2 separate regions of the Homo sapiens genome follow, and region 2 is linked to region 1. The links come from fine-mapping of genetic effects on gene expression. A gene starts in region 1. The other region holds a variant in brackets. All regions are shown on one strand. Distances are between the middles of the regions.

Region 1 (5,380 bases):
GTTATGAGCTTGTGGTCCCACCTACTCGGGAGGCTGAAGTGGGAAGATCGCTTGAGACAGGGAGGTCAAGGCTGCAGTGAGTGAGCCTTGATCACATTACTGCACTCCAGCCTGGGTGACAGAGCAAGACCCTGTCTCAAAAAAAAAAGTTTCCAGAAGGAATCTTAACTCTTACCTTCACCTTCAAGTCAGTTTTGTCAAACTTTAATAAGCACTAAATATGTGCTGCCTTTATAAAAATATTTTCGCCAAATCTTCAAATAAAATGGATACGTTATGTTTTCTGATACAGCTTAGTATCCTCTGGCCAGACACAACCTTTGGTGTTAGTTAGTTCCCAGTTTGAGAACCTGGGAACTAACTAGATGATGTCTATTTTCTTCCAGATCTAAAAAGTTGGTGATTCAGACTTGATATAAAATCTGTCTTAAGAATAAAGGTACCTTGTTTCACAAGAAATATTTTACACAAGTTGAATCATTTGTAATGCTCCAAAATAGCTTCTTATTTAAAAACTTAAATGGTGAATTATTTTGTAAATAAAAATATGTCTTAATTATCTAGTTTAATCAGATTTAATAAACTTTTGGGCACCTACTATGTGCCCAATAGTTTCAGGCTGTGTATAATTCCAAAGTAGAATAAGAATTTTGTCATCTTAGGCAGCATTGAGAACTTGATGTGGCAGGCACTATTCTACATGACTTATTCATTTAATTCTCACAACTCTGTGGTCACTAGTATTATTCTCATCTTATAAATGAAGAAATCGAAGCACAGAGATTTTATATACCAGTCCAAGGCTACTAAGCTTGTGATTGTGCTGAGATTCAAACCAGGCAGTCTGACTCTATCCACTATTCTTTTTTTTTTTTCCACCCCTTCCCTCTCCAATCCACTATTCTTGAAACACATAACAATTAGAAAATAGGATCTCATATAATAAAATACTAAATTATGCGGTACAGCACAATAGGAAACAGGACAAGGGAAAGAAAAAAAATGAGGCCGGGCATAATGGTTACACCTGTAATCCCTGCACTTTGGGAGGCTGAGGTGGGAGAATTGCTTGAGCCCAAGAGTTGGAGACCAGCCTGGCCAATATGAAGAAGCCCCGTCTCCACAGAAAATACAAAAATTAGCCGGGCGTGCTGGTGTGCACTTGTAATCCCAACTACTTGAGATGCTCAGGCTGGAGGATTGCTTCAGCCCAGGAGGTCAAGGTTTCAGTGAGCCAAGATCATGCCACTGTACTCCAGCCAGGGTGACAGAGTGAGATCCTGTCTTGAAAGAAAGAAAACAAAGAAAAAGAAAAGGAAAGGAAGGAAAGAAGAAAAAGAAAAAAATGTGAATTGGTAGGAAAAGTCAAAGAGAAAATAGAATTTCAGTTAGCTGGAATTTGCACAGATAAGGAAGAAAGAGTATTCAGGAATCCACAGTGTGAATACAGGAGGACTCTAGTGGGAAAAGGGAGTAGATGACAATGAAACTTGAATAGGCAAGGGGAGGCCAGACTGAAAGGTCTTTTATTCCAGGCCCCAAACCAATGAAAAAGATCAGAAGGTTCCTGAGCCGGAAGTAGGAAGGCCAAAACCTTAGCAGTATGTAGGACAAAATGAGAGGGAATAAAGCAGATTTTCTTGTATTATCTTTAGGAAGCAGGGAAGGCAGAGATTTTATTATTATTTTTTTTAACTGTTGCATTCCTCCTAGCATCTAGCAGAGTGCCTTACACAAAGTAGGGACTCATATATCTATGAGTGCCCGCATAAATGAAGAAACGAAGCGTACTTACAATGCAAATATTAACAGGATAAGAAATATTTAGCCAAGTACCACCCCTTCTGACACAGCAGAATACTTACAAGGGATCTGGGCCATTCCAGATCACCATCTTTCTTTCTGAAATGATATCCCAATCACTAGGGCTCTGTTCAGACAGTGACCTTGTAAAGCCCGAGGAGCACCCTAGAGAAGGGAACACAGGAGGAGCAGGAAAGGGAACACGGGAGGACCAACGCCCAGATCTCAGCGTGGTCGCCAGAATGACCCATATTAGTCATTTGGGGTTGCAGAAGAGGGGATGCAAGCCCATTCCCAGGACGGCCTCCACCCGGCGGGGCAATGAAGGGAAATGACTGACGTAGGGGGCTCCAGCGCAGGGGCCGAAGGAGATGCGACACCAGGGAGAGGGGCCCCGGGCACAGGCAGCAAGGAAAGAGGTCAGCGGAGTCTGAGAGAGAAACGATGAAGAGGGGAGACGGGCGCCGGGAGGGGGGCCGCCGCATACAGTTCCCCCGACACTCGCATCCTGGAAGGCACCAGCCCCTCACGACCAACCTGCCAGACGCTGTGAGGAATCCCCGGGTCAGAATGACAAGCCTCCGCGACAGTACCCACCGAGCCAAAGCTCCTGGAGAGCGCGCTGGAGAGCGCATGCGCCAGACCGGGCGCTTCCTCCACGTGGCCTGGAGCGTCGCCGAAACTACAGTTCCCAGAATGCCGCACGAGCCCGCCCCCAGCGGGAGCTGTGGGGCAGAGGCGCTGCTGTGGTTGGTCAGTCCAGTAAGAAGCCAGCAGGGCTGGTGCTGGGGCTTCTTCTCCTGAAGGGGCTGCAAGAGGGAAGGCTTAGCCATGTCGTCCTTGATCAGAAGGGTGATCAGCACCGCGAAAGCCCCAGGGGCCATTGGACCCTACAGGTAACGTGGCTGGTGGAAGCTGTGTCGGACCCAGGGCGTGCGGGTTCGGGGATTCGGGGTTGGGGCCACTCCGGGCCGGAGCCCCAGCTAACACGCAAGGAAATTGAGCCTGGAAAGTAAGCAACGCGCCCGAAGACCCACAGAGAGTTGGGAGCCACGATGGGACCAGGAACCTGCACTCCATGGGACTTTGCTCGTTCTGGGGCTGCCTCGCTGCGGAGCACAGCCTGCCAGAAAGCTCTCCCCAGTTAGAAGCCTTCAGACCCTGTGTTTTGTTTTGGGGGAGGGGGTCGTTTTTGTTTTCTTGGTAACAGCTTTATTGAGATATAATTCACGTACCGTAAGATTCACCCCCTTTAACATGTACAATTCAGTGGTTTTGACCATACTCACAGAGTTGTGCAGCCATCACCACTTTCTTCAGAACATTTTCATCACCCCAAAAATAAATCCCATCCCCATTAGCATTCACTCCCCATTCTCCTCTCCCCCGGCCCCTGACAATCTACTTGCATCTTCATGGATTTGCTTGTTGTGGACATTTCCTATAAATTGAATCATAAAACATGCAGTCCTTTATGACCAACTTCTTTCATTAGCTTCATACTTGGTCTGCCTCTCTCCCAACTGAAAAGAGCCCCATCAACAGCTCCCTCCTTTAAACCTACTGCTGTGAGAAAAGGCACTGAGATGTGGCAGAACAGGAATTATTATAGAAAACTTGGAAATAAATAAAATGCAGTAGAAGTGAGAGGGCAAGTGGGGTAGGGAGTAAAGGAGAAAAAAGACAAATTGATTTTAACTTGGGGTGGAAGAGGAAAAAGAAGATTTAGGAAGGTTCCTTGTGAGAGGTAGTCCTTTGGTTTTGAAGGTTGGTTTTGTCATTTATAGTAGTGTTGTAAAGTTTGATTTTTAAATTAATTTATTAAGGATTTCAACAGGAAGTCATTGAGTGAAGGGCATGGAGGTAGAAGTCAGGTAGAGGGAATGGCTTGAGTGAGGGCATGGAGGTAGAAGAATGCATGGTATAAAGATTTTGGGGAGAAAGTTTTCATAATTCAAGTGCTACTTCTGTCTTTTTTGTTTGTTTGTTTGCCAAATCTGTATATCACTTATAATTTACTTAACCTATTTCTTTGAGATGGCTCACTTCATTTTATTTAACAAGTTAATTGAAAAAGGAAACTTTACAACAGTACACTAAATAGAAAACAATTCAATAGAAAGTAATAGTAAAAAATAAACTCAATTAAAAAAAGGTATTATTAAATTTTAGCTAGATATTGCAGTTGGCTCAAAACCTGAGGCCTGCTCTCTCTTTGTTAAGAGTGATGTTTCTTTAGCCGGGTACTGTGGTTCACGCCTGTAATCCCAGCACTGTGGGAGGCCGAGGTAAGAGGATTGCTTGAGGTCAGGAGTTCAAGACCAGCCTGGGCAACATAGTGAGACCCCCATCTCTATTTAAAAAAAAAAAAAAGTTTAATTAAAAACTTTCAAGTGATGTTTTAATTTGTTTTCTAAAGATGATTTTTTTTCTCCTTAATGTAATCAAACGGGGTAGAGTCATCATTGCTAACATTTACTGATGCTTACTCAGCAGCATTGGGCACTATCCCTTTTTTTTTTTTTTTTTTTTTTTTTTTGGAGGCAGAGTCTCACTCTGTTGCCCAGGCTAGAGTGCAGTGGTGCAATCTCAGCTCACTGCAACCTCCACCCCACAGATTCAAGTGATTCTCATGTCTCAGCCTCCCAAGTAGCTGGGATTACAGGCAGGTGCCACCACACCCGGCTAATTTTTGTATTTTTAGTAGAGACAGGGTTTCACTGTGTTGGTCAGGCTGGTATTGAACTCCTGACCTAAAGCGATCCACCTACCTCGGCTTCCCAAAGTACTCGGATTACAGGTGTCAGCCACCATGCCTGGCCAGCACCAGGCACTGTTCTAAGTTATTTATGTGCATGGTTATATTATAGTCCCTATTTTTCAGATGAAGAAACTGATGTGTGCAAAATTAAATAATTTGCCAAAAGTTACACCACTAAAAAGTGATGTAACAAAATTTGAATTTAGGAAATGGGTACTAGAGCCTAGTCTTAATCATTTACTTTGTTGTCCCTGGTGTAGATTGAAAAAAAAAATTGGAAAAGGAATCATTTTCTTACTATGTAAGACTGTGTATAAGTCTTACTGTGTATGACTGACTCCTTTGAGAAATACTGATTAAGAGTTGGACTTTGGATTTGAATTTTTGTTTTGCCTCTTTTTAATTATATGATCTTGCAGAGTGACTTAACCTCTCTTAGTTTGCTTCTTTGTCTTCTCAATGGGCATAAATAATACCATTTGATAAGATTATTGTGGGAATTAAATAAAAGTGACCAACAAAAATTAGATTTTGGCCAGGCACAGTGGTTCACACCTGTAATCCCAGCACTTTGGGAGGCCGAGGCAGGTGGATCACAAGCTCAGGAGTTCAAGACCAGCCTGGCCAAGATGGTGAAACCCCGTCTCTACTAAAAATACCAAAAAAAAAAAAAAATTAGCTGGGTATAGTGGCGTATGCCTGTAATCTCAGCTACTCGGGAGGCTGAGGCAGTGAATTGCTTGAACCTGGAAGGCAGAGGTCGCGGTGAGCCAAGATCGCACCACTGCACTCCAGCCTGGGCTACAGAGCGAGACT
Region 2 (5,380 bases), 24 kb after region 1:
AAAGAATAAAAAAAAGTTTCCAAAAGTGTTTTAGTTACCACATTAAAGAATAAAGACAAAAGTAGAGAAAGTACCAGAAATTTTTATAAATTTCCAAAATTTTATGAAAATAAAAGATTTGAGTCTCAGCCTCCTGAGTAGCTGGGACTACAGGCACATGGCATCATGCCCAGCTAATTTTTTATATTTTTTGTAGAGATGGGGTCTCACCGTGTTGCCCAGGCTGGTCTTGAACTCCTGGACTCAAGAGATCCACCGCCTTGGCCTCCCAAAGTGCTGGGATTACAGGCGTGAGCCACCATGCCCAGCCAAATTTATATTTTATATGTATTATTTTTTAATGAATTAAGTATAAATGGGACTCCTTGGTATTTGTTATTCATTTACTGATTCAACAAATATTTATCAAGTATGTACCACATTCCATTAAAGGAGCTAAATGCCTGAATTCAAAAATACATAAAACACAGTGCTTGCCTTCAATGCAATCACAATCCAGTGCCTTTACTTTGCAGAAAGGATGATGTCATCTCCTCAGGGAACTCCTTTTATTGTCTTCCTCGGCACTTTACAGTCAGAACATAAATTAATATTAAAATCAGAATCAAGAGAATATGTTTTTCCCTGTATCCTATATTCTTATAATTAATTATAGGCCATCTTAGTAGTTATTTTAATGTAGAAGCTAAAGTAAGAGACTAGTTAGGCCGGGTGGCTCACGCCTGTAGTCCCAGCACTTTGGGAGACTGAGACAGGTGAATTGCTTGAGCTCAAGAGTTCGAGACCAGCCTGGGCAACATGGTGAAACCCTGTCTCTACTAAAAATACAAAAATTAGCCCGGCATGGTGGCACATGCCTGTAGTCCCAGCTACTCAGGAGAGGTGAGGTGGGAGGATTGCTTGAGCCCAGGAAGTCAAGTTTGCAGTCAGCCATGATCACACCACTACACTGCAGCCTGGGCAACAGAGCAAGACCCTGTCTCAAAAAATAAAAAATAAAAATAAAGAGACTAGTTAATTCATCTGAGCAGTTACCTTAAAAATACATATTTACTTAGGAAATAGTAGGAATTTTTTTAAAAAAGAAAAATACCTATTTACAAACAAGATAAATAAACAAAATGTTTCCAGAATTCTATTCTGATACTCAAACACACAAGACACTCACTGGTAGGCAAGTTAGCTATTATTTTTATTATTCACATACAATCATTTGCCAAAATCCCTTGCCAACTTCAGAAGAATTCTCAAAAACTGACTCTGTGGTGCATCACTAAAGAAATCTCATAAATGCTTCTAAAATCTTGATTTCTTAGCCTTTTTCCATCACTAAAGCCTACCATTAAATTGCAGTCATCTAAAAAAGAATAGAGTGGCCAGGTGCAATGGCTCACACATGTAATCCCAGCACTTTGGGAGGCGGATCACAAGGTCAGGAGTTCAAGACCTGCCTGGCCAGCATAGTGAATTCCCATCTGTACCAAAAATACAAAAATTATCTGGGCATGGTAGCAAGCACCTGTAATCCTAGCTACTCGGGAGGCTAAGGCAGGAGAATTGTTTGATCCCAGGAGGCAGAGGTTGCAGTGAGCCGAGATCGCACCACTGCACGCCAGCCTAGGTGACGGAGCAAGACTCCATGTCCAAAAAAAAAAGAAAAAAAGAGTAGAGCCCAGGAATAGACTCTACATAAGCAACAATCTAGGTTTTAATCCTTGCTGTTTATTGTCTCCAAAATACATTTAAAAGTGAATTAATTAAAAATACTTTTAATGTTATTCAAAAGGATAACACCAATTGAAAAACCTCATGTGAGTATAAAATCAACAGCTGATTCGAAATGGCACATGGAAAATGTGTAGCCTTTCATCATGAAAAATGTCTAACCTTGTGATAGCACCAGAGTTGCAATCCTTTGCAAAGGATTCTGTTAACATATTTAATATTCCATGATAAATAAGGATCTGTGGTAGTTGACAAGCTTAAAGGAGAGCAAATGTGTAGATGACATACTTCCTAAGGTTCTTATCAGCTCTGAATTCTATAACAAGACAGAAATATTTGGTATAGTTCATCCTATTATTTTTGCTGTTGTTCATTCTCATTCCATCATGATTATAATTGTGTGACTTTATTATTGTGAGTTCCCTAAAATTTGCTAACTCCTTTCTCTAGCCACTTGTACCTAAAGGTTTACACTTTCTTTTTAGGGTCTCATTTTCTATACTGAATGGCCCCATGGCCACAATGAAGAAAGTCACCCTCACACTCTTAAATAATCACATCATTTTTATTGGCTTTGGTTTTTATACTTTTAAATGTATAACCATTCTAAGTAGCTAAGAAAACTGTTCATGGCTTAGCAGTTTTGCAGAACAATAT[A/G]ATCAAGAACACAGAAACATCCTTCTCATGGTTCCAACAGTCTCTCTATAACCACACTCCTTACAGAAAACATGTAAATGTAGAAAGATAAGATACATAACCACAAGCTTCACTACCATTTTTGTCTCCTCTATGATAACACACTGTGTCGGTTCACTCTTCTATCTATGTGGCTGCTGAAAGGTCCACCACTTCTCCTGTTTCTTCTTCTTTGGTTTCAGCCCCTTCACTCACTTTCTCATTCTCCATGTCTGTTTCCACCTTTTCCCCTGTCTCACCTGGAAAAGTAACCAAAGGAGATACTAAGAGACATTTATTTAGAATTAACATAAATTATCCCACAGTTTGTCTCCAATGGGGGCAGTTCTTGATCTTCAGGTCTAAGCAGTAAGTTTCTCTGGGGGTATCAAGAAAAGTAATCATCTCAGCTGGGCACCGTGGCTAACACCTGTAATCCAACACATTGGGAGGCCAAGGAAGGCGGATTGCCTGAGGTCAGGAGTTCAGGAGCCTAGCCCAAAGTAATGAAACCCCGTCTCTACTAAAAATACAAAAATTAGCTAGGCATGGTGGCACAAGCCTGTAATCCCAGCTACTCGGGGGGCTGAGGCAAGAGAATCACTTGAAGCCGGGAGGCAGAAGTTGCAGTGAGCTGAGATCACGCCACTGCACTCCAGTCTGGGCGACAGAACGAGACTCTGTCTCAAAAAAAAAAAAAAAAGGAAAAGAAAAGTAATCATCTCGATTCTCTCAGAGCCTCTGAATGGCTGAAATGTCGAGTCAATTAACATCTCGAGTCTTGGCATACTCTTATGAAAGAAATGCTCTCTATAAAATCAGGATGCAAAATTACCAAAGAAATGGTGGTAGAACAGATTATAATAGAAAGTTCATGGCCAGGTGTGATGGTTCCCACCTGTAATCCCAATGCTTTGGCAAGCTGAGGCAAGAGGATCACTTGAGGCCAGGAGTTCAAGACCAGCCTGGGCAACAAGACCTCCTGTCTTTACAAAATATTTTTCAAAAATTAGCTGGACAGCTGGGCGTGGTGGCTCACGCCTATAATCCCAGCAATTTGGAAAGCTGAGGCAGGCAGATTGCTTGAGCCTAGGGTCTGAGACCGGCCTGGCCAACATGGTAAAACCTTGTTTCTACAAAAAATACAAAAATTAACCAGGGATGGTGGCGCCCAGCTACTCAGGAGGCCGAGGAGGGAGAATGGATTGAGCTGGGAGGCAGAAGTTACAATGAGCTAAGAATACCACTGCACTCCAGCCTGAGTAACAGAGCAAGACTCTGTCTCAAAAGTAATAATTTTTTAAAAGAAAAAAAAATTAGCCAGGCATGGTGGCACATTCCTGTAGTCCTAGCTACTTGAGAGCTGGGGCAAGAGGATCCCTTCAGTCCAGGAGTTGGAGATTATAGTGAGCTGTGATTGCATCACTGCACTCCAGCTTGAAGATCTTGTCTCGAAAGGAAGGAAGGAAGGAAGGAAGGAAGGAAGGGGAGAGAGAGAGAGAAGAAAAAGAAAGAAAAAAGAAAGAAAGAAGAAAGAAAGAAAGGAAGAAAGAAAGAAAGGAAGAAAGAAAGAAAGAAAGGAAAGAAAGAAAGAAAGAAAGAAAGAAAGAAAGAAAGAAAGAAAGAAAGAAAGAAAGAAAGAAAAAGAAAAAGAAAGAAAAAGAAAGTCTAATTTGTATCTAAATCAAAGGGTGGTCCAGGGGTGCCCCTAAACCTGTCTGGCTTGGCCATTATGTGTTTAAAAACAATCGTTAAACATTTACAGACAGCCAACACTAACAAGTCTGGACATTGCACACACTTGCAGGAAACCCTGTTTCCCTGAGAAGTTGGCTTTGGCAACATTGGCCCTAGTTCCATGGCTGGAGCTGTGCGGAGCTTCCTCTTTTGACAAGGCTGTGCTCTCCTGTTTGCCAAGGTCCCCTGGGCTCCCACAGTATGACATGTGTCCTTCACCTCACTCATTTTCAGTATCCTAGGCCTAAAGACTTTTGAGTTTGCCAATCCTGATGTAAAAACTACCTGCTTTTATTTGCCTCTCCCAAGTTGTTCCCAGGGCCCTTCTTACACATTCTTAGGAAAGCAGTTCCCACAACAGACTATGGTGATGCACGCACATCCTGCCTTCCCACACTAGACAGTGAGCCCCTTGAGGACAGAGACTATCTCTTCCTCAGTCTGCATCTCAGCACCTAGCATATGTTTAGGCATGCCAAAAAATGCTGAGTTAATAAATGAAAGAATTGGCCAGACATGGTGGCTCATGCCTGTAATCCCGGCACTTTGGGAGGCCGAGGCGGGTGGATCATGAGGTCAGGAGCTGGAGACCAGCCTGGCCAATGTGGTGAAACCCCGTCTCTACTAAAAATACAAAAACTAGCCGGGCATGGTGGTGTGCGCCTGTAGTCCCAGCTACTCAGGAGGCTGAGGCGGGAGAATCGCTTGAACGCAGAAGGTGGAGGTTGCAGTGAGCCGAGATCACTTCACTGCACTCCAGCCTGGGCAACAGAGCAAGACTCCATCTCAAAAAATAAATAAATTAATTAAATAAAATAAATAAATGAAAGAATTAAACAAAAACAGATGGATGATTATAATGAATGCTTCACTTAAGTATACTGAACTGTGAAGCTAAAATTTACCAAAATGTAAATCATACCCCAGAAGAAAATATTTTTTTAAATTATAACACCAATAAAGAACACTGTAAACATCATTTGTTTTATGCTGGTAAAATACAGTTAAAATTTTAAAACACCATATGCTAAGACATAGTACATTTTCTCTGGTCTTCTCATACAGATTTTAAAACTGCAGAAGAACAAGAGCAGACTGACAGTCATTTTCTTTTTCCTTTTTTCTTTCTTTTTTTTTTTTTTTCTGGAGAACAAGGTCTCACTATGTTGCCCAGGCAGGTCATGAACTGCTGGGCTCAAGCTATCCTCCCACCTCTGCCTCCTGAAGTGCTGGGATTACAGGT

Which allele goes with the higher level. Positions count from the first base shown, and alleles are read on the strand shown. Sizes are in standard deviations (SD) of each study's normalised expression.
With allele G in place of A in region 2, the expression in unexposed skin of the gene that starts at base 2,560 in region 1 is lower (small effect, 0.28 SD a copy in GTEx).

The links. PIP is the estimated chance that this variant, and not a neighbour inherited with it, causes the effect.
Region 2: its variant is fine-mapped to the expression of RIDA in unexposed skin (GTEx, PIP 0.98).

Annotation. Positions count from the first base shown.
Region 1 is chr8:98,114,351-98,119,730 of GRCh38, reverse strand. RIDA (reactive intermediate imine deaminase A) reads left to right here and starts at 2,560. Exons shown (of 6, transcript NM_005836.3): 1 at 2,560-2,699. The coding sequence starts at 2,635. POP1 (POP1 ribonuclease P/MRP subunit) reads right to left here and starts at 2,438. Exons shown (of 16, transcript NM_001145860.2): 1 at 2,341-2,438. RefSeq lists enhancers at 2,166-2,335, 2,406-2,455.
Region 2 is chr8:98,090,501-98,095,880 of GRCh38, reverse strand. It overlaps ERICH5 (glutamate rich 5), which reads right to left. Exons shown (of 3, transcript NM_173549.3): 3 at 2,272-2,660. The coding sequence ends at 2,548. Among named protein-coding and RNA genes, the nearest start is that of RIDA, 24 kb to the left of the region's middle. The variant A/G (reference allele first, on the strand shown) is at 2,383.